4 linked regions of the Homo sapiens genome follow. The protein of the gene in region 2 binds, or shares a complex with, the protein of the main gene of each other region. Each region holds a gene or a part of one and is shown on either strand. Other genes may lie near its edges. The genes, in order: MRAS, PPP1CC, MKI67 and CDCA2.

Region 1 (8,003 bases), on a different chromosome or scaffold from region 2:
ACAGGGCTCAGAGGCATGATCTAAGACTTAGGAGGGCTGACAGGGACTCAGAGTCCAGCAAGAAAATTCCTCTTAAAGCTTGAATTCTCTGCTGAGTCCCTAGACAATGGGTACCTGCCAGGTGTCCCAGGTCTCAGGGAACTCCTCCAGCTCCTTTTTTACCTGTCTCCAGATAAAGGTGACTGTACCTTCTATGCCTGCCCAGGGCCTGGCAGGTACAGAGCCTCTGGAACTCAATGCACATCCTCTGGACACTTAAGAACATTCCAGCATTGCACAAGAATGCATTCCCATTCAGTTCACATGAGTATGCTTGTACAAACTACACAATGCTCATGAGCAGGTATGTTTTTCAATTGCTTTCAGGGAGACACACTCTGTTTGGGGGCATTTCATTGGCAGAACAGATTACAATGGTTAAATCTGATGTGAAATATATTATGGAAGCCACATTTCCCTGAGAACTCACTAGATCCAGGAGGCTGGTCAACATGTGATTCTGACTGAGGTTAGGACCAGTCATCCCAGGAGCCTAATTTATCAGAGGCCAATAGTCATTCCTGGTTCCAGGTGATCACTAGAGCTTAGGAACCAAACCAACCCCAAGGGTAACTGACTTGTCACTTTTTTTTTTTTTTTTTTTTTTGAGACAGGGTCTTGCTCTGTCACCCAAGCTGGAGTGCAGTGGCGTGATCATGGCTCACTCCAACCTCTGCCTTCTGGGCTTAAGCAATCCTCCCACCTCAGCCTCCCAAGTAGCTAAGACTACAGGTGCATGCCACCAGGCCCAGCTAATTTTTGTAGAGACGGAGTTTCACCATGTTGCCCTGGCTGGACTTGTCACTTTATAAGTAGCTCAGACGAACTGAGTATGAAATACCAGTGGCTAGAGCTAATAATAACATAAAAGTTAAACCTGTCATAAAGTGTCTTATGTAGGTGAAAACAGAGGTGGAAATTAGCAACTGTCTTATGGAGGAGCGAAGCTGACAACGCTGGAGACAATCGCTTGCTTCACCAAAGGGCCTTGACTACCGCCTACCCCAGTCCCGCCCCCAGCTTTAGGAAATGCCGAGGTCACATCTAGGGGGTCAGTTTCCACCAGAGCACGAGGCTTGCCCAACACCTCCCTCCCCAGAGGCTGGCAGACCTCAAAAACCCCAGAGCATGAAAGCCCCATGCCTCCCACCCCGGCAGAAAAAGGACAAACTACACCATAAACTACAGAGAGAAGCTAACTGGCTGCTGGGCAGTGTGAACAGACCTAAGGGTGAAAACCATTGCCCGAAACATTTTCAGCCCCACTCAGCAGGGACATGTGATTTACAGGAAATTAGGAGGTTTACAAAATGTTAGCAGCTCAAGTTTCTTCCCCGGGAAAAGAAGCAGGAGAAGCTCTAAGAACCGTATCCGAGAAAGTGCTTTGTTCACTGCTAAGCTTCTGACACGAGTCAGTTATTAATACCCACAGCTCACTGCCTCACACTTCAACCCACCAGTGAATGTCTATAGTGAATAATTATAAAACAATATATTACAAAACTCTAACACAGGCTGCACCAGAGCCTTCCGAAGCCCAGGACAGCCACGTGGCCAAAAGCATGGACTTCAGATATGATCTTGGGCAAGCTGTTGGCTCTTTTTCACCCCAGTTCCTCCATCCTTTACAATAAACAAAATCCTTCTGGAGGTGTCTTGTCAAGAGGTGTCTTGTCAAATGATGAGCAAATCCACTTCAAGTGCCTGGTCTTTGGAAGCCCTGTTGGTTGCTGTTATTACAGTGGAGTTTCAGAGCTCTTAAAGTCATATCTCCATCTTACTTCTGCTGCCAGACAAACCTCTGGAGGCCACGATTCCGAGCCTTGTCAGCCACCCTCTCTGGTCAGGTCCAGGACAGAGTGAGTCCTAGAGGAGCAAGGCCAGGGAGGTTCCACACCATCAGGGGCCATTGGGGAGTAGGGGCAATGGCAGAGCTCTATGATCAAGGCCCCAGTGGCCTTGATGGACTCTGTCCACCTCTCCAGACTCCACTTTGCCCCAGGCCAGAACAGACCTCAGCTCTAGCCAGAGTCTAACTGGGTGTCCAGTGTATACGCTGCGGCCAGCCAGACATTAACTCCTCTAGGCGGCCTTCTCTCACCTCCCACTCTGCAGTAGGGACCCCTAGGGGCTCCCACAACCCCTGGGCTTACCGAATCTCAGCACTTACCACACTGGCTTGTCACTTTGTGCTCTTGTCTTCCCCGCAGGGCAGGACTGGCACCGTGTCTGATGCCTCAGCCAGATCAGTTCAATGCATGAGCCCAGGCCCTAGTTGTGACCACAGCTCCAGCTCCCCAAACCTCCGGGGGCAGTGAAGGGTTGTTTATGAAGCAGGCTGCGTTTTATTATTCAGATGAATTTGTCAACTCCCTGGCGGATCCCTCCCCTCGTTAACGCCATCTTAAGGCGGGGGGGTAAAGAGTCCCCCACCCACCCACCCATCCCCCGCCGCCCCGTCCTGCCGCCCATCTATCCACCGGGTTCTCGCCCAGGCAGCCAAGGAACTGTAATTACCATGAAAGGGTCTCTCTGAGCGGCGCGCAGGCCCTCCCCACTGGGGTCTTGGTCGTGGCCGATTTCACGAACGCACACCGTTACGCGGGAGCCCGCGATGGGGGCAAAACGCCACGCACAGCCGGTCCCAGGGCGCACCCCGCAAGCGGAGAGCGCGGCCGAGCCCGGAGGGCGGCCACACCTCCCGCCCCGGAACAAAGCGACGGCCGGGGCGAGAGGCGGCGCGGCCGGGCCCCCTCCCCTCCAAGGCCGCCCGACCACTCACCGCGCGCTCCAGCCCCGGCTCGGCTACGGCACTCAGGCCGCCCCCTCCTAGCCTGCGCCGGTGAGGAGGCAGCGTCGCGCCCGCCGGGCCCCGCGGCCGCCGGACTGACGGCTCCCCGCCAGCCGGCCACTCCGGTCCGTCCCCGCCCCGGCGCCTCCTTAAAGCGACCGCGCCGCCAGCGTGCGCCCCGAGCGCCTAGCGCGCCGCGCATTCCTTATATTGCCACAGCGCCTGCTAAAAATAGAGCGCCGCTGCGGGCGCGCCAGTGGGGAGCCCGGGCCGGGTGCCTCGACCCTGTCGCCCCCGCGTGCACCCCGGCCCCCAGGACGCGCGCCTACGAAGTCCAGCCCACCCGCGCCGAGTCCCCTGGGCCCGGCAGGGCGCGCTAGAGCGCCAGGGGCTGGGGTCGGCGCCGCAGCCTCTCCCGCGGCCCAGCACTTACCCGGGTCAGATCCGTGGTGCCGGGGAGCTGGCTTTAAGGTGGACGCCGAGTGGGAATTCGACTCGGCCTCTTTAAGAGCCTCTGCGCTCCAACCTTTAAATCTCCGCTCCGGCCGGGCCAACTTCTGAGCCTAGGGACGCCTCCCCAGTCCTAGGCGAACCTCCGCCGCCACCTTAGCTGCATTCCCTTCGAATCCTGAGACGTCTTTCTTCCAGATCATGCCCCAGCGTCTCTCCCCGCAGGCCTTCTGGGTGCACCGTTCCAGGGCCCAAACTTCGTTGGGATGGATGCGACGGGGACAGGCGACACTCGCGCACCATTTCATTGTTTCAGTTCCGCTAACTCCTCTCCAGCGGCGTCATTTTCCCCCCGTTAAAAAAATAAAGATATAATTCAACACCATAAAATTCCACCTTTTGAAGTGTACAATTCAAGCCGGGCGCGGTGGCTCACGCCTGTAATCCTAACACTTTGGGAGGCCGAGGCGGGTGAATCGCCTGAGGTCAGGAGTTCAAGACCAGCCTAGGCAACATGGTGAAACCCCGTCTCTACTAAAAATACAAAAGTCAACCCGGCATGGCGGCACGTGCCTGTGATCTCATCTACTCGGGAGGCTGAGGCAGGAGAATCACGTGAACCCGGGAGGCAGAGGTTGTAGTGAGCCGAGATTGCGCTACTGCACTCTAGCCTGGGCAACAGAGTGAGACGCTGTCTCAAAAAAAAAAAAGTGTACGATTCAGTGGTGTTTAGCATATTCACAAAGTTTTGCAACCATCACCATGAGCTAATTCCAGAACATTTTCACCACTTCCCACTCCCCTCCCCTGCCCCTCACAAAAAGAACTACCCGTTAGCAGTCACTCCTCATTCACCCCTTTCCTCCGCCTCTGGGAACCACTAATCTACTTTCAATCTCTATGGATTTCCCTATTCAGGACATTTTCTATAAACGGAATCATACAACATGTGGCCTTTTGTGACTATGACTAGCTTCTTTCAGTAACCAATGTTTAATGATCTATTCATGTTGTAACATGTAGCAGTACTTCATTCCTTTTCATGACTGAGTAATATTTCACTGTATGTCTATACGTTTTGTTTATCCCTGCATCACTTGATGGATATTTAGTTTTCTGCTTTGGGGCTACTGTGAATAAAGCTGCTATGAATATTCATGTACAAGTCTTTGTATGAACATATGCTTTTCTTTCTCTTGGGTATATACCTAAGAGTGGAATTCCTGGATCATATGTTAACTCCATGTTTAACTTTTGGGGGAACTGCCAAACTGTTTTCCAAAGCAGCTGCACCATTTTACATTCCCACCAACAACATATGAGGGTTCCAATATCTCCACATCTTTGCAAACACTTGTAATTGTGTGTCTTTTTTTATTCTAGTCATCCTATTGGGGGCGAAATGGCATTTCATTGTGGTTTTGATTGTCAGCATCATTTCTGAGGACATTCTTTTTCTGGGTGGACCTCAATGACTTAGAACCAGCTTTACATGTCCAGGGAACCCACTCCCTTCTCAGGTTTGCCCCAGGCCTAAGGGAGCCTCACAGTGCTGCTGGCTCTGCCTGCCATGCTGAGGCTCTTAATCCCATGCAGGCTTCCTTTGGCATCCCAGCCACCCATGCAGCCATTTGGTGGGAGCTGCTGTGCACCCCCTGTGCCTCCACTCCCACCTGCTGCTCCAAAGACCCTGTAGACCCCAAGTGTCCCCCAGGAAGGGGACAGCAGGTTGGGTGCCATCAAGAGTATCTCTCCTTGGCAGTAGGGAGTAAAAGACCTGGTTGGGGAGAAGGCTTGAGGGACAGTAGTTTACCTCGACTGTCTAGGTTTGCCCTGGAACCTGACTCCCTCAACCCCCTCTATTTACCACAGAACTTGGGAAGGCGGGCAGGGATCTGTACATCCTGGTGGCCTGTCAGCCCCTCGTGGGCTCCCCATGTAAGAGATGTCCTCTCTTGGGCCCTGACTGGCACAAGACCCTGACCATGCCCTCAGCTTGAGCTGAGCCAACATCTATGCAAGAGTCAAAGAGATGTCTTTATACTGCTTTTATACACATATCTGTAATAATACCTCTTCTCAGAAATGGAACTTAAACAGCTAATAGTCATACCCAGGTACCTGGGATTCTCCTTTTTTTTTTTTTTTTTTTTTTTTTTTTTTGAGACAGAGTCTCGCTCTGTCACCCAGGCTATAATGCAGTCGCATGATCATAGCATCATAGCTCACTGCAGCCTCGACCTCCCGGACTCAAGACATCTTCTTACCTCAGCATCCTGAGTAGCTGGGACTATAGGTGTGCACCACCATGCCTGGCTACTTCTTGTACTTTTTGTAGAGATGTTCCCGAGGCTGATCTCGAACTCCTGGGACTCAAGCAATCCACCTATCTGGGTCTCCCAAAGTGCTGGGATTACAAGTGTGAGACACTGTGCTTGACCTACCTAAGATTGCCTAATGGTGAGAGTAAATCTTGCAGATTGCGATTGCGGATGGGCTGTTCCATTTGAGCTGCCTCCTCTGCTCTTTGAACCTTGAAATACAAGTTGTGGCTCAGTTGCTGGCAAATGGGGGCTTAGAGAACAGAGCCACTGAGCAGAAAAGCTTCATTCATCCAGTAAACACTGCCAGAGCATCTACTGAGTACCGGGCACTGGGGCAGAGACCTGCCTTCAAGCAAGCTGAGTGCCAACTGAGGAGCAAGTGGTGTGGAACAGAGAAGCACAGGGACTGTGGAAGACCAGAGGAAGGGCACCTAATCCAATATGGCGAGGAGGCAAGTGCCAAGGGAAGGACTTCTGTGAGAGCTGATGACTGAGCCACATCTGGAAGGACAAATAACAATTAGCTAGGGCCGGGTGTGGTGGCTCATGCCTGTAATCCCAGCACTTTGAGAGGCCAAGGCAGGCAGATCACAAGGTCAGGAGTTCAAGACCAACCTGGCCAATATGGTGAAACCCCGTCTCTACTAAAAAAAAAACAAAAATTAGCCAGGTGTGGTGGCGGGTGCCTGTAGTCCCAGCTACTAGAGAGGCTGAGGCAGGAGAATTGCTTGAACCCGGGAGGCGAAAGTTGCAGTGAGCTGAGATCCTGCCACTGCACTCCAGCCTGGGGGACAGAGTGAAACTCCATCTCAAAAAACAAAAATTAGCTAGGCTGAGAAGGGAAGGAGAAAACCTTATATGCTGAAGGATGATTGAGCAGAAGTCTTTCCAAAGTCTCTGGCAGATGTGCCTGGCTGATCAGGTGTGTTTGAGGCATGGCAGAAGGCCAGACACCTAGCCAAAAACCCAGGCAAGGCTCAGGCCCAAATTTAATCCACAGAGGTCCAAGGTCAGACACAGGGCCAGGAGCCAATTTCTGGCTAAAGTCAGAGCCACTGAACTGACCCAGAGCAGGACAAAACAAACATACTTCATCCACTGCAACATGTCCTACACTTGCCTCTCTGCCCTGAGGCTTGCTGAGTGCCATGCCTCAGAGCCAATCCAAACTGGTGCCTAGTTCAGCAGCAAACGTGGGGGCTTGGGACCTTGGGGCTGGAAGTCAACCAGGTCATTGTGGCCCAGCCTTCCTCTAGAACTCCCAGCTTCAGGCCAGACGCGGTGGCTCACATCTGTAATCCCAGCACTTTGGGAGGCCGAGTCAGGTGGATCACCTCAGGTCAGGAGTTTGAGACCAGCCTGACCAACATGGTGAAACCCCACCTCTACTAAAAACACAAAATTAGCCAAACATGGTGGCGCATGCCTGTAATGCCATCTACTTGGGAGGCTGAGGCAGGAGAATCACTTGAACCCAGAAGGTGGAGGTTGCAGTGGGCCGAGATCGCACCATTGCACTCCAGCCTGGGCAACAAGGGTGAAACTCTGTCTCAAAAACAAACAAACAAACAAACAAACAAAAAACCTCCCAACTTCAGTGTATTCCCTAAGGGTAAAAGAAGCCGTGAGTTTCTGAGCACTCACAGCGTGCCTGACACCAGACATAGTGATGGGTCTGACCCTGTGCTGTAGGTCATCTGAGCCCTGTCTTAGATATAAGGAGACTGTGAGCCCAATCCTACACAGCTGGTAGACTAAGAATCAGGCTCTTCTGACCACAAAGCCTATACTCTTCTCCCATGCCAAGTGGCCTTGATGGACAAGTGTGTGTTTGGTGTTGGCGGAGCAGGGATAAGGTGAATAGGAGACGAGTGCTCATTCTAGTCACTGGGCCTGCGGCTGGAATTAGATCTTTTGGTGACCCTGAAGCACCAACCATGGGCTAGCAAAAGAACCTTGCCCCCACGACCTATGCTTATTCATTCCTCAAGCTGACCCTTCTTCTGTGCCAAGTACAAGGCCTTTCTTCCCCTGGGCTGCCCATGATGTAATGCCAAAAACTTATACTCTGCTTTCAGAGTTTTCATGGACTTTACCAATCCAGGCCCAATCACTTCTCATCTTTACTCCTCCCTGCTACCCTGCTGTGGCTTGAATGTCTCCTCCAAAACTCACGTTGAAATTAATTGCTAGAGGTGGGGCCTTTCACAGCTGATTAATGCCATTGCTGTGGGAATGGGTTAGTATTACAGGGAGTGGGTTCCTAATAGAAAAGACAAGTTTGGTCCAATTTTCTCTCTGTCTCATGCTAGCTTCTGCCTGCCTTCTGCCATGGGAGGGCCCTCACCAGATGCCAGTGCCATGCTCTTCAACTCCCCAGCCTCCAGAACTGTGAGCCA
Region 2 (6,884 bases):
TGGAAGATTGTTCCTGCCTCAGGGCCTTTGCACTTGGTGGTCCTTCTGTTGGGAATATTCTTCCCCTATGCCAATCCTTCCCATGACTTTCTCTTTTTCATCCTTCACATCTTGACTCAAATGTCAAATCCTCAGAGTCCTCCTATGTGGTCACATGACCCTTTCTAATTTTCTCACGAAATCGCCACTCTCTGAAATTATCCTCCTCAAATGGTTTATCTGTTCCCCTCTGTGTCTTTCTCTAGACTGGGAGCTCCATGAGGACAGGGACTAAGTCTGGCTTATTCACTGCTATGTCCCCAGCTTCTCACACAGTGCCTGACACCCAGTACGGCCTCGACAAACGTTGCCCAAAAGAATACAAGTGTCTGCCGGTAACACTACAGGATGCAGAGATAGAACTGTGGACGTTGTCAAAGAGCATTCACCCGTATTTTTTCCCCATGGTTCCCTCCTTTGTATAAAACCCCTGGAATATCCAGGGAGGTCTAGATTTGCAGGCAAACTTCATCACCAACACTCAACACTTCTTTCTTTTCTTTTTTTTTTTTTTTTGAGACGGAGTCTCATTCTGTCGCCCAGGCTGGAGTGCAGTGGCACGGTCTCAGCTCACTGCAACCTCCGCCTCCTGGGCTTAAGCGATTCTCATGCCTCAGCTTCTGGAGTAGCTGGGATTACAGGCACCCACCAGCACGCCCAGCTACTTTTTGTATTTTTAGTACAGATGGTGTTTCACTATATTGTCCAGGCTGGTCTCGAACTCCTGGCCTCAAATGATCCACCCACCTCGGCCTCCGAAAGTGCGTGAGCCACTGCGCCCAGCCACCAACACTTCTTCCAATCATCTCACCACAATCCTAATGCTCATTAAATTGGAAGGACGGAGAGAATAAAGTTCATCCCCAGCCTTCTAGAACAGAGTTCCAAATTGCTGGCCTAGGGCCAAATGTAACCCACAGATATGCTTTGTCTGCCTCACACTGTTTTAGAAGATTTTGAGTTCATGACCGACTTTTTAAAATTGGAACATTTAACATAAAAATCCATATGTTCAAGTTTTACCAAAAACTCAGAGGATCTGGCCACAAGTGGCCCCAGGGGACTGGAGCTGAGAAGTGGCCGCCCCCTTGGATGAAACGTGGGCTCAGTTTGCTCCAGTCCCTACCCAGAGGCTGAATTCTTTCGTATTATCAGCCAGGTCCCTTTAGGCACTGGGATCCCCCCTCAAAGCCTAAGTATCCTCAGAGACACTATTGAGTTTCCAATATTTGGCCACAGCCACTCTCTTCTAATCATCAGCTCCCCATCATCTTCAGCAGCCCCTAAGAAAGCTCTGTAGAGCCAGGAAAGACAGTTTGAAAAGTGCACTTTAATCCACTCTCCTCATTTGACAGATAGGCAAACTGAGGCCTAGAGAGGGGAAGGGACATTCCATTTATTAGGCTGTATCCTTTCTGACAGGATGCTTATATCAACTCATCTTTGGAAAGCCACTGGTGCTGATAATGGCAGAAAAAGGCGAATAGGGAATCAGTGCTTTCCTCCACCGGCTATTTGCTGGTTCCTGGGAGCTGTGAGGGCCCACCCTGGTGAGCTATGCCATGCTCAGGCTCAGAGCCAGCTAATCACTTAGGCATGTGCCAGCAGAACTGAACTCTGGAGGGGAGTTGCCCAGCAGAAAACAACCTGGGGACAGAGGCTCTCCCCATGTCCCAGCTCAGTCTGAAGTCCTCCTCCAGCCCTGATGATGTTGCAAGAGGTTAACACACCTGCCATTTTGCATGAGGAAAATTATGGCACTCGTATTGTGGGCAGAGACACAATTCAGTCATTCCACTGGGTTCCAAATTGATATGTGCCCAGTATGTGCCAGGGATGTGAACACTGCTGGGGGTTCACTGCCGGGTTTTACTGAATATGAACGAGGGCTGTGGTTTCAGGCTGTCCTGAGTTCCAGCCCTGACTCTGTAACTTCCTGGCTGTGTGACCTTCAGCAACCACCCTAGCCTCTCTGTGCCTCACTTTCTTCATCTGTAAATGGGGATGATAGGAATAGGACATAATTCCTAGGATTATCTTGGGGATTCAATGAGATCATTTTTTGGCACATACTAAGAAATGAACACAGTAGCATTTTTTTTCTTGTTTATTTTTCTCCACTGCACTTATCAGAAGCTGATATTTTTATTTGCATCTTTGCTTACCATCTGACTGACTAAATGACTCTCCATAGAAAAAAGCCTTGTCTGTCTTGATCACCCCTGCTTCCCTGTCTAGAACAATGCCTGGCACAGAGTGGGTACTCCATAAATATTTGTCTGCTGAATGAATTGCTGTCTTTCATATTTCTACCCTAAATGCCATTCCGATGATGCACCCTGCCCTGGAGTAGCCCAAAGTCCTGTGGACTCCAGCAAGAGCCCCCCCTGACCTCCATAGCCAGATGTTCACAGCAGCGCTGGGCACCAACTCCGAATGTCACCAACTGGGCTCATTGCCTTGGCCTGACAAATGGCACTTATGTGACTTCTGGTGGACAGAGCTGTAGCAGGGGAAAGTGAGTTAGTGCCTGAGGAAAGTGGATCGATAGGCTGAGTTCTGAAACTCAAGGGCCCTGCACCAGTAGCGAGGGGGCCCAAGTAAGGGGACATGGAGCCCGCACCCTGAGGACATTGCTTTGGAAGAGGATGCCTGGGTGGTGCAATTACCTCGTGGCATACTGAGATGGGGATTCGTGCATCCTGCACGCCTTGGGAAACAAAATGAATTTCTCGGAGAGAGGGGGCTTTGCAAAATGTAAAGCGCTGCAGGAAGCAACGTACATGGAAAGGTCAGGAAAGAGAGCCGATCTGTTTGCTGAGTGTGGGCTGTACTTCCAAACCCAGCCAAAGTCGACGCGCAGCCCCTGGAGGTGGCACAGTTTGGGGGCCCCTTGGATAGGAGTGCCCTCGGGGAGGCTGGGAAGCCAGAGAGGAATGGGCCAAAGTTTCTTCGGGTGTCTGCAGAACCCAGGACCGCCCGCGCAGCTTGCATCTTCTCTTCCCGCCCCCGGCCTGCACGCGTGAAATCTGCAAATTCCCCTTTTAACTGCTGCACGCGCTCGTTCAACTTTGCCCTGGCTAGAATCGGGATAACCGTCCCGATGATTACATAACTTTCCGAGTTCAGGGAAGATAAATCCAAGGGACAGAAATGATAAAATTTTCTTTGAGTATGGATTTTTTACCCCTAAAGTTACAGAAGTGCACAAAAAATATATATACAAATACCCATATACCCACCACTCACAATGAGTTAACTGTTACATTTTGACTTATCTGAAAGAGGGTTTTTTCTTTTTAGTTACCAAATAAACCTTTCTCTTGTCCCAAGTTCCAGTATATCTGAATCCAAAATAAGTCAACCTTCTTTTCTTTATTATTCTTTTCCATCCTCACCCCAGATTTATCTTAAAGGGTAAGTTCCAGGACCCCCGAAATCCCTCGGTGAGCTCCCACCTGTCCAGGTCTGCAAACATCTAGACTCAATGCACAAGATCCGGCGATGGCCGCAACCGGCGGTGTGCACAGCTGCATTTCCTCCCCCAGCCCCAACTCCCGCGTGCAACTTTGCAACTCTCGCTCGGGCCCGGCATTGGGGGCGGGCCTATTTACTCGGCCCGTTTGGCGGAAGGATCCCATGCGGGGACGCGGTTGCGCTCAGCCATCTGCGCCCCGCCCAGCGCCCGGGCCCCGCCCCCTCCAGCGCCCGGGCCCCGCCCCCTCCCGCGCCCCCTATGGCCCATAAAGAAGTCCCGGCCGGGCCGCTGCACTCCCCGCGCGCATCCGTGCGCCGCCCGAGGCTGTCTAAGGAGTCGGCGGCCATTTTGTTCTTCTCGTGGTTCCAGTGGGGAGAGAAGGAGGAAGTAGGGAGCGGGGTGGCAGGGGGGGGACCCGCCGCGGCTGCTGCCACCGCCGCCACCACCGCCTCTGCTCGTGGCGTGGGAAAGGAGGTGTGAGTCCCGGGCGCGAGCCGGCGGCGGCGCCGCTGCGGGAGGGTCGGCGGTGGGAAGGCGATGGCGGATTTAGATAAACTCAACATCGACAGCATTATCCAACGGCTGCTGGAAGGTAAGGGGGGCGGCGGGCGGCTGAAGGGGGAGGCGGGCCTGAGGGCGGCAGGCGGCCCCGGGGGCTCGAGGGAGGGGAGTTGGGAGGCCGGTTGGGCTTGCAGCACCGTGGGGAGTGAGCTCCTCGAGTTGGCCCACGGGCCGGGGACTGCAGCCGGAGGGAGGCCAGCCCGGGATTCCCAACTTGTCGCCAGCTGCGGACCCTCCAGGCTCCGCTCATTCATTGCACGAGGATGCAGGCTTCCTCCCGGCCGTGGAATTTGAAAACTCCGCTCCCCACCCCCACGTTTCCCGCCCCTACCCGTTTGCCCCCGCGCACTGGACGGGTCTTTGGAGCGATGGTTGGGGATCCCAGTCCAGCCTCCTGGACGACGTGTGCCGTGCTGTGCGAGATGGACTTTTCGGTGCTCGTCCTCTCGGAAGGCAGTTTGATGAGGGCATGAGTTCCGCCGGGTTTGGGGGCTCTTTTCCTGCTTGCTTTTATTTTTATTTTTCGTGGTTCTGGGGTCTTGGGGGGCCCATTTCTTGTTACTTGGTAACAAGCGTTCATGTCTCAAGAGGTGTGAGAACCTGTCTTCGCCTGCCCTCCAAATCCTTTTAAGTTGTTCTAATCTTGGAGAGGTCTCCGCGCTCTTTTCCTGAGCGTGCATCTGAAGAGGAAGCCAACGAGGCTGACGCTATCATTATCTTTCCAATGTGCCAGGCTCTGTCTTAAGCACTTTGCGTCCATGAATTATTACTGTAATCATAACTGACGCTTCTAAAGCGCTTACTGTGTGTCAGGCATTCTTTGAGCACTTAAGACAGATTTCATTTAATTCTCCCACCCATTGCAAGATATTTGCAATTTTTTTTGTTTTTGTTATTTTACAGAAGAAACTGAGATGAAGTCACTTAACCAAGGTCACACAGTTAGTGACAGTTGGATTTCAAATCCACATAGCCGGGAGCTAGAACCCTCTACAGACAACACTGTCACCTTATGTAGGAAGGAAGGTGGCCAGTGGTTAAGTAAAGGTTAATAGAAAGCTTTAAATTTCGGCTCATCTAAGACTTGTGAGGTGCCTGGCAATTGATTCATGTTGATGTGGGAGAGGGGCGAGGTTCAGCTTTTAAAGACGGAAGCTGAAATGAGCTGCTTTCAGATTCAAGGGCATGTCAACGGATGCTAACATCTTATCCAAGACTTTGTAAGAATTCAGTCATATCCCCTAACTTGGACACTTCATAATGGGAACTTGGCAGTTTCAACTGCTTTTTGCCTTTATACAGTCCTAAAATATTGTTGGACTATAAATGCTGTGAGTGGTGGAGTCGAGGGCATGAACAGTTGGACAGCTCTGGTGTTAGAATTTACAGATCTTTTAAAGTAAGTTATTAAAATGAAGCTCCTGAAAATATCTCGTCCTTTTCTTAATCTGTGCATTCTTTCCTTTTATGCTGTCTTTAAAAAAAAAACAACAAAAAAAACACTAAATGTCATTAAGGACCCCTGAAATGCTCTTGAAATGTTATTGCAGGTGAAAACCTTGTATTGTAGGTGAAAACCTTGTCATTCTTTTAATGCCAGGTATTTATATAAGAACCATACTTTTTCATACTAGTTAATATAGTTCTTTAATTTATTCGAGGCAGCAGTTGGTCAGAAACTGATTAAAATAGTTTGCTGTAAGAAAGGAACTTTTTGTTAAATATTTTCTTTCTAAATTTTAAAATTCTGCTTATCTCTGCAGGGATATGTGTGGCTTTATTTCTCTGAGGAAACAGGAAAAGTTGGAATTTGCATGGATTAGAAACATTAGAATTTTAAGATCATCTAAGGCTTGCTAATTTAAGTTCTGGTTTGCCCATAACTGCCTCTATTCATAAACAGCTTTTGTTAATTTTGATCTTTAAAATTGTAATAAGTACTTTGCCTGGTAAGTAATGATACATCTAAAATGAGATCATTGTTTCTTAATAGTTCCTCTTGTTATGTGGCACTTGAAAACCAGGTTTTCTTATATTTCATTTTTTGCTGAAATTAATAAAGCAGTGCATTTTAATGCCTTGGGAATAGGCTAACTGCAAAGTATACTTAAATTTCTTTTTTTCTCGTGGGTGTTAAATTGGCAGAGAAACAGTTGAAGATGATCCATTGAGGATATGTAGATATCTAAGTTAAATGATGTTGGTAATAAATTCTGTTTTACAATTTTTTATTTAAAAAAATTAAATTTAATAATTTAAAATAGAAATGAGAGTCTCACTGTGTTGCCCAGGCTGTTCTCAAACTCCTGGTTTCAAGCAGTCCTCGCACCTCGTCCTCCCCAGGTGCTGGGGTTATAGTCATGAGCCACCGTGCCCGGCCTAAATTTTATTCTTTTCATAATGCCCCCAAAACCTTTTTTTTCCCTAAATAAGATGTAAGTATATCTGAAAGTAGAGGGAATATGACTTGTGACTTTGGCCAGATTTTTTTACGTGTTTAGAATTGATCTTTTAAGCTTGCGAGCAGTATAACCTAGTTGAGAAGTAGCTGAGTAATAGTACTAAAAAGCTAACTGAAAAGTGAAGTCTTAAGAAAAACAGCATGTTGGTTTAGATCTTAGTCACTAACCTTTGCAGTTCTTTTCTTCTCTGAACTCTGAGTATTTCTGTAAGCGAGGCATCACCTCTGCAACCCACCATGGATGCTTTTATCCAAGCTCTGCCTTGCTGATGATAAAACTTAAGGTTGTTAACTCCTTAGTATAACTGATGTTAGTTATTTAAATAACTACACAGTAAAACGGCA
Region 3 (7,281 bases), on a different chromosome or scaffold from region 2:
CAAATCGAATTACCTTTTATATGAAAAGCTATACTTAAAAGACACAAAGGAATACTTACATCAATTTTGGATAATGACTATTTTTAATACTCTGTGCTTTTTCAAAAACGTTTGTTTGTAATGTTAAATATGTTTAGAGGTTTAATCATCCCCAAATGTGCTTATTTGATGCTAGCACTTCTGTGCATCAGTTTCTTCATATACAATAAAGAAATTACATTAGAACCTACATCATGTGATGTTCAATTAAATGGTTGTACATGTCACTAATTTGCCTAGCACATAGTAAATGCTCATTATGGGTAAGCTTTTCATTGTTGTTTTAAAACTACACTGAATTTACTGACAGATTCAAGTCTCTAAACAATAAAAATACTAATTTGCAAGCGACACAAAAAAAAAATCTAAATTCAACTTGTTTTTCCACAGAAAGCTAACACCATGGCAAAGTAGCAGAAGAGACAATTCCTAAACCTATACAAACTAATAATCAGAAGAGTTTGTTAGTAGGTTCTTGGAGTCTTCAGTGTTCCTGTTCTAGCCTGTGATCTTAAAAATTTGAATAAACTATGCAATGGCCTGTCTGTTCTCCATCTGAACCTTTGGAGTCTAAGAATCTCTCTTCCTACCCAGGTCATGTGACCAAACACTTAGGAATTATTTCTAAATTATAAAATCTTGCATGAAGATATATTCAAGGAGTACTGTATAAAAAAGCAAAAGGACTGCCACTGGAGATGAAATGTTTATATTTTTCCTTTTCAAGAGAAAGGTATCTATGGAAAGTGAAAAGCTTCCTTAACCCCAATAAAATAATTTGATTTTAAGGTAACAGGACATCAGAGCAAAGGAAAGACTATCCCTTACAACTGAGAATTTGTTTGGCAGGAGGACGACTATAGATGGGTGTTTCTGAGCTTTGGCACTGTTGACATCTTGGGCCAGATGCTTCTGTATTGTGGGGGCTGCCCTGAGCCTGGTAGGATGCCCACCCTGACCTCTCCTCCGCGATGACAGCGCATGCCCCTGTCCTATATTGTGACATGGAAATTCAAATGAATCCTGGAAGGTTAGATGACCCTCCTGTGAGAACCACTGTTCTCAAGAGATTGCAAATCCATGGCTCCAGCCCATGTTTCTACTGACCCTTGCCAGAATGCTAGGTATTGATCACACCCCCTATGCCAGACACCATCCCTGGCCCTACACACGTGATTAGTAACAAGACAGTCTTTGCCTTTGGGGAGCTCAGCCTAGTGGGAGACAAACCCACAACTCACCCCTGAAGCTGTGGGGTTGGAAATACAAGTTTTCATGCAAGGCTTCCTCAGAGGTGACATTTCACCTGATGCCTGAATGATGGAAATCACACAAGCTTGAGGAAGGGGAGAACTTTCCCATTGTAAACTTCCAAGTGTGTAAGAAGTACCAAGGTGAACAAAGGCTTGGAATGCCTTAGGCGGGAGGAACAAGGTAGGGGATGGGGTTGGGAGGACAGGGTGAGGCCGGGATGGGGTTGGGAGGACAGGGTGAGGCCTGAATCCCGTGTGGTCTGGGAAATGACCACACGGGAAATGACCCCCCTTCTCAGGCCTCTAGTGGGACACATGTCAGAGGCTGATGGGGCACTGTCAGCAACTATACCTGTTATACAGGGACAGGGTTATTACCACCACCAAACAGGACAGCAATATAAGAGGAAACGTTCTCGAATTCCAGGCAGGAAGACTTTCTGTCCCATTTTCCTATTGCCACAAGGAGCCAAGAGACAAGTGTATGGCTTCCTTCCTTCATTCTCTGTGTCCCCAGTGGCCAGGGATGCCCACTGTGGAGGCACCCGGGGGCGCACAGTGTCTTCAGACGCCTGCCTGCAGCCAGTGACATATGAAGATCATCTACATCTTTCTTTACCGCAACATTAGCAAATCGATTTTTTTAATTGGCTTGATTTTTAAAACCACTTAAACATACAAACTAGCATCAAATTTATACTTACAAAACAAAAAAACACAACTATGTCAACTTAGTAACGAATGGGAGAAGCACCAAGGAAAAGTGACGGCAGGACCCAATCCTAGAGCGCGTTTCTGGACTTTATTCTGTGACTAAGGTATTTTCCTCTTTCTCAGCTAAAACGTCCGCGCGCGCCCGCGGGGCTCACCTTCCAAACAAGCAGGTGCTGAGGCTCAGGGGAAAGTGGGGACCGTCGACCCCGCTCCTTTTGATAGTAACCAGGCGTCTCGTGGGCCACATTTTCTAAACAGTAAGTTGAGTATAATCCGTAGGGGAAGGCCAGGTATAATCCGTAGGGGAAGGCCAGAAGCAAATTTACAACTCTTCCACTGCAAAAGAGGTGCGAGTTACTCTGATAGCAAAGGAGCTAAGAAGGGCCCCGTGCCCAATTCACCTATCCCCGGCCACAGAAGCGCACACCGCAGCTAGCTAGCGGGGACCCCAGGACGATCCGACCGCAGCCCCCGGCGCCCCAAAGTCCGGCAGCTGGGGTGTTGTCGCCAGCGCCTGCGCCTCCTGGGAGCTTCCACCGAGACGCCCTCGCCAGAGCCCAGGAGGAGTCGGGCCCAGGCCGCGCGTCTGTCCCCTGCCCGTCCCCGCAGAGCTCGGGGGGTCCCCGCGGCTCAGCCCTCGACCCCGGACAGCTCCCAGGAGTCCCGGCCGCAGCTCACCTGGGACGATCCGGCCCGCAAGGCCACTTGTCGAACCACCGCTCGTCAAGTCGCACCCAAAGTCCGCCGCAGGAGGAGCCGGCGCCGCGCTCACCTCCGCCCGGTAAGCTGCGCCCGCCACGCTCCGCACACACCGGGCCGCAGCCCGCGGGGTCGCGTTCGCTGCACCCCGGCCTGCAGTCCCCGCTGCTCCCGCCGCCGCCTCTGACGGGGACCCGGTGGCCCTACAGGCTACGTCCCCGGGCGCCCGGCTCTAGCGGCTCCCACCGAGTCGAGTCCTCCCGCCCGCCCGCCCGCCCGCAGCGTCAGCCCTCCACTTCCTTCTTCCAGCCCGGCGCGCCCGCCCAATTCAAACGAAAACGAAGATTCAAATTCTGGCGCTAAGCGCTGCGATTGAACGGGAAAGCGCGGCATGGGACCAATAGGAAGGGAGCGCAGGGCGTGGGCGGGGAGGGGGCGGGGAAACCGGGCTCGCGGGGCGGGGCTGGCGTGTCCGCGGGCGAGCCACTCACGCATCCGGAGGAAAATACCTGGGTGCATCCCCGGCGAGGGCGGCTGGCGGAGGGCAGAGGTGGAACACGCTCCCACCGAGATAACCCGTCCTGCTATCCTTTTCTTAAAGGACCAAACATCTGGGACACTATAACATTACTCATTGCCAGAAGATTTAAAACTGCTAAAAATTAAAAACAGGCGGGACGCGGTGGCTCACGCCGGTAATCCCCGCACTTTGGGAAGCTGAAGCAGGAAGATCCCTTGAGCCCGGGAGTTCAGAACCAGCCTGGGCCACCTGGAGAGAACCCATCTCTACAAAAAATTCGCCAGGCGTGGTGGCGCCCCTGTAGTTCTAGCTACTGGGACAGCTGAGGTGGGAGGATCGCTTGAGCCGGGGCGGTCGAGGCTGCAGTGAGCTGAGATCGCGCCACTGCACTCCAGCCTGGGCGACAGAGCAAAGCCCTGTCTCAAAAAAAAAAAAAAAAAAAAAAAAAAAATCGAAACCTTCCTCTTCAGTGCATACATCTTACCAAACACAAAAACAACCAATTATATAAAGTAGTTTGGTGTGTCTTTTCCTGCTATACGTGTATTCTCTTTTTCAAAAGCACAGAAAAAAAGGTCATAACATACACAACACGATTCTATACTTTGTGCTCTCTGCTTTTAAATATCCTGAGGCTATCTCCACTGAACACATTCTCGCTTTTACTCTCTGATGGCTGCAGAGCACTGGGCTTCGGGAAACCATAATTTACTTAATCATTACTATTGCCACATACTTAGGTTTACAATGTTTTGTTATTAGAAAACATTCTTCAATTGAAATGGCTTGTGCATGCCAAGATGGGTGAATCCTAAAATAATTCTACACAGGATTCTATCGGGGTCTGCTTCAGTTGCGCTGGTGGCCATGTGGGCTCAGTAGGCCACCTGGGGTGAAGTGAATGGAGCCTAAACACGCTTTTGGTGACAACGGCCTCTCTGCCCCATCTCACCTCCTCCAGCTCCCCAGCAACCCTTGGAGCTTGGCTCCCTTGATCAGGGAGGCCTCGATGCAGGGGACCCCTGAGGACTTCCTATTCCTTTCAGAGAGTCCATAAGGTCAAAACCATTTATCTAATGACCCTCTGTGTTACTTGCCCTTCTCATTCTCATGCTCCCAAGAGTGTGGGGTGTGGTTCTGCAAATGCAGAAGCAGTGAGGAGACTCCCACTGTCTCCGTTTCAACCAGGTATTACAGAGATTTGCAAAAATGTGAACTAAAGCGCTGTTTTCATTTTGTTGTTTTTTTTCCATAAAAATAAGTTATTGGTGTTAGCATGAAATAGGTGCATCACTATCTTAAAATGAATCAATAAATGAATATTTTTAAATTCCTTAGCCTTAACTTAAAATATATAAATATAGCTAGATATAACCCATCCACATTAACAAAAATTCCTGGTGGTTCTCAATAATTCTTAAGAGTGTAAAGGGACCACAAGATTGAAAAGACTGAGCCCTCTGCTCTAGAGCAACTACAAAGATATCAGCTGCTGATGGAAATAGAGAAACTGGGAAAGCAACATAAAAGCACAGGACAGCAACTCTAAATTGTATGGGCCAAGTCTGACGTAGAAAAATTCAGTGCGGGGATACTATTATATAAACGTTTTAGGGGGCATGAGTTTCCATGTTTTCCCCCATTAAACGATCAAACAAAGCCCACCACTGCATAACCCCATAAAACACAACTTTTCTCATCCTAATTACTGCTTGTTTCCAGAGACAGTTCTTCCACCCTCATGGATGCAGCCTAATTAGAACTAGAAGGTGCTAGGCCAGGCGCAGGGGCTCATGCTTGTAATCCCAGCACTTTGGGAGGCCAAGGTGGGTGGATCATGAGGTCAGGAATTCAAGACCAGACTGACCAATATGGTGAAACCCCATCTCTACTAAAAATACAAAAATTAGTCGGGTGTAGTGGCACACGCCTGTAGTCCCAGCTACTCGGAAGGCTGAGGCAGGAGAATCACTTGAACCCGGGAGGCAGTGGTTGCAGTAAGCCAAGGTCACGCCACTGCGCTTCAGCCTGGGCAACAGAGCGAGACTCCATCAAAAAAAAAAAATAGAAAAGAGAGAGAGACAGAAAGAAAGAACGAAGGAAAGAAAGAAAGAAAAAGAAAGAAAGAAAGAGAGAGAGAAGAAAAAGAGAGGAGAAAAAGAAAGAAAGAGAGAAGAAAAAGGAAGAAAGAAAGAAAAACATTTTGAGTTACTTCTTTGAAACATTTTGAGTTACTTCTTTTCTGTTGTTGCTGTTGTTGTTTTTCTTTTTTGAGATGAAGTCTCACTCTGTCCCCCGGGCTGGAGTGCAGTGGTGCAATCTCTGCTTACTGCAACCTCCGCCTCCCAGGTTCAAGCGATTCTCCTGCCTCAGCCTCCCAAGTAGCTGGGATTACAGGTGTCTGCTGCTAAGCCCAGCTATTTTTTTTTTTTGTATTTTTAGTGGAGATGGGGTTTCACTTTTTTTTTTTTGAGACTGAGTCTCACTCTGTCACCCAGGCTGGAGTGCAGTGGCACAGTCTTGGCTCACTGCAACCTCTGGCTCCTGAGTTCAAGCAATTCTCCTGCCTCGGCCCCCTGAGTAGCTAGGACTACAGGTGTGAGCCACCACGCACAGTTTATATATATATATATATTATGTGTGTGTGTATATATATGTATGTGTGTGTGTGTGTGTGTGTATATATATAGTATACTGTCGCTATATATATGTATATATGTATATATATGTGTGTATATATATAGTATACTGTCTCTATATATAGTATATAGTATGTGTGTATATATATAGTATACTGTATATATAGTAATTATATATAGTATATATACTATATATAACAATTATATATAGAGTATATATACTATATATAATTAGTATATATATTACTATATATATATATATATATATAGTAATTTTAGTAGAATCAGGTTTTCACATGTTGGCCAGCTGGTCTCGAACGCCTGACCTCAAGCAATCCGTCCGCCTCGGCCTCCCAAAGTGCTGGGTTTACAGGCGTGAACCACCGTGCCCAGACTTCTTCCTGGCTTTTAATCTGGTCTCTTGTGGGGAGGTTGCCCACACTTTTCTTCCCAACTTTCTTCTCTGTTACGTAAGTCAGGGACAATGTATAGTTCCTTCCAGACTTCCGTATTCTACTTTCATTGATCTTGGACCTACAAGTCGGTTTTGTAGCTCCATTTTTGGAGTTTTATTTTTTTCATGATCTTCTTTCCATTTTCATCTCCTTTAAATAGTTTCTACTAATATAGGAAAACTACGGATGTATTGTTCTTTATTGGTTATGTTTCTTGTTCTTGGACACAAAGGCATTCCCTAGGGAAATCAGAAGACATCTACAAAATTCCAATAATGATTGAAACAAATCTCAAAATTCAACTAAAAGTAAACTCAAAAAGAAATGCATTTAAAAATATTAGGCTGATTAATTTTTTAAGATGTCAGTAATCTAAGATATCCAATATGATGCTTTGCCAATCTATGAACAAGAAAAGTCTGATTATAACAGCTTACATTATAGCAAAATGCCCCATTACACAGGCATCAAATGAATTTCTTATCACTTAGTCATCTCTGCTAAAACAAAACAAAACTCTTCATGACTGGACTTTCGTCATACTTCTCTCCACACACTAGTAACCTCTCTAACAACTCCAACAATTATGTTGACTGCAGAATACACATTCCCTGTATGTACTGCTCTGATTGTTTTCCTATTTGTACCCAATGCTCCTGATGATAGTGTCTAGAGCAACATAAGACTAAGCTGCCCATCTTTTCACTGAATAATTTTTCACACATTTGAAGATGAACACAACTCATTCACTTCCTGAAATATTCTCGTTAAAATTTTTATTAGCAGTTTTTGCTGTTATTGTTGTTGTTTGTTGTTGTTGAGATGGAGTCTCGCTCTGTTGCCTAGGCTGGAGTGCAATGGGCATGATCTCGGCTCACTGCAACCTCCACCTCCTGGGTTCAAGCAATTCTCCTGCCTCACCCTCCCGAGTCACTGGGACTATAGGCATATGCCACCACGCC
Region 4 (7,020 bases), on a different chromosome or scaffold from region 2:
TTCTAAGTTCTGTCGTGAATTCCGTTAATGAAGCTTTTGTGCTTTCTTTACACCTTCTAGTGCATCTGCTCTGTTTCAAATCTGGAGGGAGATTTTCTCTGTGTTTTAGAGAACATGCAGTTAGCGGCCGGGCGCGGTGGCTCACGCCTATAATCCCAGTACTCTGGGAGGCTGAGGCAGGCAGATCATTTGAGGTCAGGAGTTCGAGACCAGCCTGGCCAACATGGTGAAACCCCATCTCTACTAAAAATACGAAAATTAGCTGGGTGTGGTGGCAGGTTCCCGAAATTCCAGCTACTTGGAGGCTGAGGCACGAGAATTGCTTGAACCTGGGAGGCAGAGGTTGCATTGAGTCAAGATCATGCCACTATGTTCCAGTCTGGGCGACAGAGTGAGACTGTCTCAAAAAAAAAAAAAATGCAGTTAGCCTAAATGATGATGTTGACCATGGGTGATTTTTCTTTGTTTGCTTTGTTTTAGAGACAGGATCTCAGTTGCCCAGGCTGGAATGCACTGGTGCAATCATAGCCCACCGCAGCAATGAACTCCTGGGCTCAAGGAATCCTCCCACCTTAGCTTTCCAAGTAGCTGGAACTATAGGCATGTGCCACAGCAATGGGCTAATTATAAAAATTTTTTTTTGTAGAGATGGGGCCTCACTATGTTGCCCAGGCTTATTTTGAACTCCTGACCCTAAGCAATCCCTATCAAAGTGCTGGGGTTACAGGTGTGTGCCACAGTGCTCAACCCAAACGAGGGTATTTTTAGAGTTATGAGACCCTGGATAGAAATAGCTTTCTAGAGGAGCTTTTTATTTTATTTCTCAATTTTTTTTTCTAGTTAAGATCTACTTTTCTATGAGGTGAGGCACTACTACCTTTTTAAGAGCTTATCTCTAAGTTACTGATTTTTTCATGACTACTGTGTGTTGATGTATAGGGGCAAGGGTCTCCTGGACAAAATGTATTTGGGACAACCTTGTGGAGAGGAGTAGATTATTTATCTGCTGATGGGGATATATTTAGCTGTTTTTTCAAATTTTTATACATCCCCCTAAAAAGTCAGATACAGTCTTGTGCTACATAATGACATTTTGTTCAGTGATGGACTAAATATACAATGGTGGTCTCATAATAATGGAGCCGAAAAATTTCTAAGGCCTGGTGATGTAGCTCATATAACATCATAAAACAATGCATTGCTCATGCATTTGTGGTGAGGCTGGTGCAAACAGTTCTACGGTGCTGCCACTTGTATTAAAATCTAGCACAAAAGGTTACCTACAATACATAATACTTGATAGTCATAATGAATGACTGTTCCTGGTTTATACATTTACTATAGACTTTGTATCATGAATTTAAAGTGTACTCCTTCTACTGATTAAAAAAAAAAAGGACCTTAATGTTGTACGTGTGTTGTGCTGGCAGCAGCCTCCTACGTTCTCCCTAATCCATTGGCTATCCCACAGAGCAGTCAAGGAGAGGCATTCATTTAAAGTAGAAATCGAATCATTCACCCGGCTGCTCAGAATCTTCCCATGGCTTCCTGCGATCCCTTGAATTAAACCTACACCCCTTCCTGATGCCTTCGTACGCCCACTCTAGTCTCTCCCCATCTCCTTCCACTCACAGGGCACACTGGCTTTTCTGCCCCATCCTGTTTCCACTCAAGGCCTTGGCCCTTGTTCTTGGAGAGTACCTCCCTCCTGTGACATCTTCCCTTAGACCTCTTTCTCATTGTTTTGGCTTCAACTCAGATTTTACTAAAGATAGAGGTCTGTCCTGATTCTAGCTAAGCCAGCACTTTTAGGGACTCAGCCACATTCCTGATATTTCTTCTCAATAGCACCTCTTTTACCTGTAACTACGTTTATATGTTTTCAGAATTTCACTCTAAACGGTAATTTCCCTGGCTGGGTATGGTGGCTCACACTGTAATCCCAGAACTTTGAGAAGCAAAGGAGGGAGGATCGTTCGAAGCCAGGAGTTTGAGACCAGCCTGGGCAACATGACAAAACTCCATCTCTACAGAAAAATTTTAAAAATTATCTGGGTGTGGTGGCACATGCCTGTAGTCCAAGCTATTTGAGAGGCTGAAGTTGGAGGATCGTTTGAGCCCAAGATATCGAGGCTGCAGTGAGCTGTGATTGTGCCACTGCACTCCAGCCTGGCTGATAGAGCAAGACCTTGTCTCAAATAAAAATAAAGTAATTTTCCCTAGATCCTGAGCCCCTCAAACAGTTTGTGGTGCATGGAAGGAAGGTTGTTGACTGACCGACACAATTCCTAAAACAAAAACATCAAAAAAGCAGTACATTTTGAATGTTTCATTTGCTTTGTATGTAAACATTGTTCTCCTTCTCCAGTAGAAAATAGAGAAAAAACAATTTTGACTAGAGAAACTTAAAATTTTTTTAAGCAGCATTTCAAAGTGCTGCATGTTCCTAGGATATTAAATCTGCCCCTACCATGTTCAAATATGTGTGCAAAAAAAGCACATTCAAAGTAAATTGTATGAATTTGAGATCATCTTTTCCCTGTCGTTCTGTTAGATGAATTGACATAAGCCTTTTTTGAATATTATTGCTGTTTATGTCGTGAACGTTTGTGTCATCAAGGATATTTCAATGTAAAATGTTCTCATTATGTAATAGAGAATTTGCTTTATATTTAACTGGGAAGAGAATCAAATGTGTGAACAGATCACCATCAAACATGGCTTCACGATATGAACTGCTTTTTCTCCCTGTGATATATATATATTTTTTCTGAGACCAAGCCTTGCTCTGTTACGCAGCCTGAAGTACAGTGGCATGATCTCGGCCCATTGCAACCTCTACCTCCCAGGTTCAAGCGATTCTCCCACCTCAGCCTCCCACATAGCTGGGATTACAGGCATGCACCACCACGCCTGGTTAATTTTTGTGTTTTTCGTAGAGACATGGTTTCACCATGTTAGCCAGGCTGGTCTCAAACTCCTGACCTCAAGTGATCCTCCCACCTTGGCCTCCCAAAATGCTGGGATTACATGCATGAGCCACTGTGCCCAGCCTACTCTGTATGATATCTTAAACGGAGGTAATTTTTACTTCACTTTTTGCCCATTGGTATAATTTTTAAACATTGCCACAAACTTCATATCAGTGGAAATGTTAGTAGTCCAAGTAATAAAAAAAAATCTAGATAGAGAACTTCATTTGTAATTTAATTTTTATGTAAAGGGAACTCTCAATTTTTATATTACTTGTCTTTAACTGGCACTTCTATCCCTGCTAATATAAATTTCATTTTATCAGTCTTTGGTTGGAACCCTGTTAACGGGGTTTCCAGAGAGCTTCTGTGCTTATACCATCAAACTTTGTATTTTAAGAGAATGGCTGGCTTTCAACCCTAAGAAGGAAATATCCTCCAGGTCCCATACAATCAGGAAAATTAGCTGGGAAGAGCCAAAAAGGAGAGCAGTGCAAGTGTAGTATCTGAGCATGTATGGAACTTCTGTGTCTCGTTCTGGCCCCTGGGCTGGAGGGCATGTGTAGACCCGTGCTGAGTAGAAACAGCTTGGACTGAAGGAGGTATGCTGAGACTTACCTGTGACACAAGCACCATGCAGATGGCTTCCTATGGATACATCCAGCACAACATTTGGTAAAAATTGCAAATAGACAGGTTCCTCCTGTCCCTTTTTTGTTGCACCATCCCAGAGCGCAATGTTTTTTTGGCACCTTCCATATAATCTTAGGCTGGCCTCTCAACATTTTTGTGTTAAACTTCCTTATTCAAACTGAAAATGGGTAATTCCAGGGTGAAGAAGCTCTGCCACACTAACTCCTTACCGCTGATCTTCAAAAAGCATATGTGTACTGTATTTAATTTTGGATTCAATGGCTGTAGGCCTAGAATATAGAAAGTATGAATTGATTATAATACTCCTTGTATATTTTGCACTTTCACAGGGCAGCCCTGCACTGTATCGAAATGTTAACACTTTAAGAGAACGAATATCAGCCTTCCAGTCAGCTTTTCACTCCATAAAGGAAAACGAGAAAATGACCGGCTGTCTGGAATTCTCAGAGGCAGGAAAAGAGTCCGAGATGACAGACTTGAGTGAGTAGAAATAATTCGTTCAGTTTTGACTTCAATATTTATAAAGACAAGCTTCTGAGTTATGAAATGATTTAGTGTGAAGCCAATCTTTTCAGAACACAGGTATATTTATAAAGTGAGACTAACATTAAAAATTTGGGACATTTCACACAAAAATAAGGATTTCTGGTTTCTCTTAGAAAAAAAAACCTGTTATCAGGCATTCCTAATCCTACATTTCCGCATGGTTGCAATTAAATTTTAAGTTTTAAAATGCCAGAGATAATTAGCTCATTTCACCTTTACCATAGAGCTTGTGGCAAATTTGAGTTTACAAATCTTGATTTTTACAGGATTATTATTAAGCTCGGCAAGCATTTAGTAAATGAAATAAATTCATATAAATTTTATATGAGTACCAAACACCCAACCCTGATGTTAAAAACAAATATATTCAGCCAGGCGCGGTGGCTCATGCCTGTAATTCCAGCACTTTGGGAGGCTGAGACGGGAGGATCACTTGAGGTCAGGAGTTCAAGACCAGCCTGGCCAACATGGTGAAACCCTGTCTCTACTAAAAATACAAAATTAGCCAGGCGTGGTGACACATGCCTGTAACTCCAGCTACTGGGGAGGCTGAGGCAGGAGAATCACTTGAACCTGGGAGGTGGAGGTTGCAGTGATCCCAGATCGTGCTATTGCACTCCAGCCTGGGCGAAGAAGTGAGAGTCCCTTTCAAAAAAAAAAAAAAAAAAAAAAAAACACACACACACACACAAATATATCCAATCTGATAATCTGCTATATTCTTTAACTCTTAGATTGTAATTCATTTGGTTGTTTTTTCAGTCTTTTTTTTTTCCCCCCCAATCACGAAGCATTTCAGATACCAGAATGTGACAAAATCTTGGTCTTACTGTAATCATTATAACCATTCTCTGGTACTTTACACACTAAGGTTTCAAATGATTCTGTTTTGAATTCTTGAACCATCTTTAAGTGCATTTCAGCACCTCCCATGAGGATTGCTCTGTTAGCCCAAGACAAGTCCCCCTCATCTACCTCTAGAGTGCGTGACCCATTCAGATGTACCGATTTATATTTGTAGTTTGTGACTCACTTATTGTTTCAGTTTTTTCCTGGGTTTTAAAATTTATTTACATCATTATAATTCTGCAGACAGTTCCTTTTTTTTAGCTAGAAAAAAACAGGTACGTTGTGGTTGTCTTTTTCATAAAGTCATACAGAGTATTAGAGCATAACCACATCTTTCAAAATAACAGGTGTCATCATTTAAAAAGCGTGAGGTACCATATTAGACATGCAAAAGTATTTTAGTATATCTTTGTACCTTTTAAGGCCTGAAAAAACTTAATTCTAATAATATGAATGTATTATCTTTTCAATAGACATGTTTTCATTCCTTTCAGTTAGATTTAATTTTTTTTGGAATAAAAAAGTGTGGTAGATTTTTCTTTTCATTGATAATTTAGACTTAAGCACTAGATTTTACTAAAATTACGATGCACAATAGCCGGGCGTGGTGGCTCATGCCTGTAATCCCAGCACTTTGGGAGGCTGAGGTGGGTGGATCACCTGAGGTCAGGAGTTCAGACCAGCCTGACCAACGTGGTGAAACCCCATCTCTACTAAATATACGAAGATTAGCCAGGCATGGTGGCATGAGCCTGTAATCTCAGCTATTTGAGAGGCTGAGGCAGGAGTATCACTTGAGCCCAGAAGGTGGAGGTTGCAGTGAGCTGAAATCGCACCATTGTACTCAAGCCTGGGCGACAAGAGTGAAACTCCGTCTCAAAAAAAAAAAAAAAAAAAAAGAAAAGAAAAAAAATATATATAATATATATGAAAACATTTATGCCTGTGTCGTTTTGTTTTTATTTTGTGTTTATAGCCAGAAAGGAAGGTCTCAGCGCTTGCCAGCAGTCTGGGTTCCCTGCAGTGTTGTCCTCCAAACGTCGGAGAATATCCTATCAGAGAGACTCTGATGAAAATCTGACGGATGCTGAAGGAAAAGTAATTGGTCTCCAGATATTCAATATTGATACAGACAGAGCATGTGCAGTTGAAACTTCTGTAGATCTTTCTGAGGTAATTCACTTACTTTACGCATAGGAAAATGAAGTTGTTGGTTTTCTGCATAGGCAGTTTTAAGGCTGTCAGTGCCGTTCTTCAATTTTAGTACCTTGTTCTGCCCTGTGGTTCCTGGGGTGTGTGTGTGTGTGTGTGTGTGTGCGTGTGTGTGTGTGTGTTTCCTACCTGTTAATTTTATGGTTGCTGGTATTTATCACTTATTAGAAACAGTTTGGATAATGATCTCACTTTTGACTACTAACCTTACAAAGAGAGTAAGCCCTGGGGTCTTCTACGTATGAGGTATTCTAGAGGGTGATGCTCCAAGAAGGGAGGAAGTTACAGTCTTGCCCTTAGGCAGTATTTTTTCTACTGGGGAGCAGGGTATAAGCAGATGGCTTCAGTGGAGCTGGTGGATCAGGTGGAGATTCTGTGTGGGGTGTACTCCACAGGCTTGGGAGTCTTGCACTTATACCTGCCCCTGACTGCTTTCCTTCTGATGGAAATCAGGGTGCCATTCAGCAATTTCTCCTTTGCTCACTTCTTTCAAGTAGCTCTAGGGATTTTTGTGGCTTATAACTACCTAAACCCTGTCAAGACGATCAAAAGGCGATATTAGAAAAATAATACTACTGAAGATCAGTTGACCTGCGCGCACGCGTGAATGGAGAGCTGGTCTCTCGTGACGGACTTTTCTTACTTCATGCTTCTAGTTCTGGTTTGACACAGTAGCTCCTCATGGCCTTTGTGAGAGGAGACACCTAACACCGTTACAGTTGGAACCCTTTCTGCACTTTCTCTGTCACTTAGATCCAGTGCTCGTCCTATTCGTTTTATGTGGACT

Evidence for each region.
Region 1: the proteins of PPP1CC (region 2) and MRAS are in contact, whole or in part, in a cryo-EM structure (PDB 7SD0), measured with the Homo sapiens proteins. Residues at the interface, in NP_002701.1 of Homo sapiens: Pro178, Asp179, Gln181, Gln185, Arg188, Ile189, Met190, Thr193, Asp194, Pro196, Gln198, Leu201, Trp216; in NP_001078518.1 of Homo sapiens: Ala5, Ile31, Gln35, Lys36, Ile37, Val39, Asp41, Glu47, Asp48, Ser49, Leu51, Lys52, His53.
Region 3: the proteins of PPP1CC (region 2) and MKI67 are in contact, whole or in part, in a crystal structure (PDB 5J28), measured with the Homo sapiens proteins. Residues at the interface, in NP_002701.1 of Homo sapiens: Val19, Arg20, Gly21, Ser22, Lys23, Pro24, Lys60, Tyr70, Asp71, Leu73, Arg74, Glu77, Tyr78, Lys168, Ile169, Asp242, Leu243, Tyr255, Phe257, Arg261, Pro270, Asn271, Ser284, Asp286, Thr288, Leu289, Met290, Cys291, Ser292, Phe293; in NP_002408.3 of Homo sapiens: Arg504, Arg505, Val506, Ser507, Phe508, Gly509, His511, Leu512, Arg513, Pro514, Glu515, Leu516, Phe517, Asp518, Glu519, Asn520, Leu521, Pro522, Pro523, Asn524, Pro526, Leu527, Gly530, Glu531, Ala532, Pro533, Lys535.
Region 4: the proteins of PPP1CC (region 2) and CDCA2 are in contact, whole or in part, in a crystal structure (PDB 5INB), measured with the Homo sapiens proteins. Residues at the interface, in NP_002701.1 of Homo sapiens: Arg20, Gly21, Ser22, Pro24, Lys60, Tyr70, Asp71, Leu73, Arg74, Glu77, Tyr78, Asp166, Lys168, Ile169, Asp242, Leu243, Tyr255, Phe257, Arg261, Pro270, Asn271, Ser284, Asp286, Glu287, Thr288, Leu289, Met290, Cys291, Ser292, Phe293; in NP_689775.2 of Homo sapiens: Lys391, Arg392, Val393, Thr394, Phe395, Gly396, Asp398, Leu399, Ser400, Pro401, Glu402, Val403, Phe404, Asp405, Glu406, Ser407, Leu408, Pro409, Ala410, Asn411, Pro413, Leu414, Gly417, Gly418, Thr419, Pro420, Val421, Cys422.

What each region holds. Positions count from the first base shown.
Region 1 is NC_000003.12:138,343,586-138,351,588, reverse strand, and holds the start of MRAS (ras-related protein M-Ras isoform 1 precursor), read right to left. Parts: upstream 3,011-8,003; 5' UTR 2,822-3,010; exon of another isoform or gene 2,557-2,821; intron 2,378-2,556; exon of another isoform or gene 2,210-2,377; intron 1,906-2,209; exon of another isoform or gene 1-1,905. UniProt on the Homo sapiens protein: Signal transducer in the Ras-MAPK signaling pathway that regulates cell proliferation and survival. Core component of the SHOC2-MRAS-PP1c (SMP) holophosphatase complex that regulates the MAPK pathway activation.
Region 2 is NC_000012.12:110,739,878-110,746,761, reverse strand, and holds the start of PPP1CC (serine/threonine-protein phosphatase PP1-gamma catalytic subunit), read left to right. Parts: upstream 1-3,870; 5' UTR 3,871-4,054; coding exon 4,055-4,109; intron 4,110-6,884. UniProt on the Homo sapiens protein: Protein phosphatase that associates with over 200 regulatory proteins to form highly specific holoenzymes which dephosphorylate hundreds of biological targets.
Region 3 is NC_000010.11:128,123,415-128,130,695, forward strand, and holds the start of MKI67 (proliferation marker protein Ki-67), read right to left. Parts: upstream 3,010-7,281; 5' UTR 2,685-3,009; intron 2,343-2,684; 5' UTR 2,254-2,342; coding exon 2,162-2,253; intron 1-2,161. UniProt on the Homo sapiens protein: Protein that associates with the surface of mitotic chromosomes and acts both as a chromosome repellent during early mitosis and chromosome attractant during late mitosis.
Region 4 is NC_000008.11:25,462,220-25,469,239, forward strand, and holds part of CDCA2 (cell division cycle-associated protein 2), read left to right. Parts: intron 1-3,955; coding exon 3,956-4,106; intron 4,107-5,997; coding exon 5,998-6,194; intron 6,195-7,020. UniProt on the Homo sapiens protein: Regulator of chromosome structure during mitosis required for condensin-depleted chromosomes to retain their compact architecture through anaphase.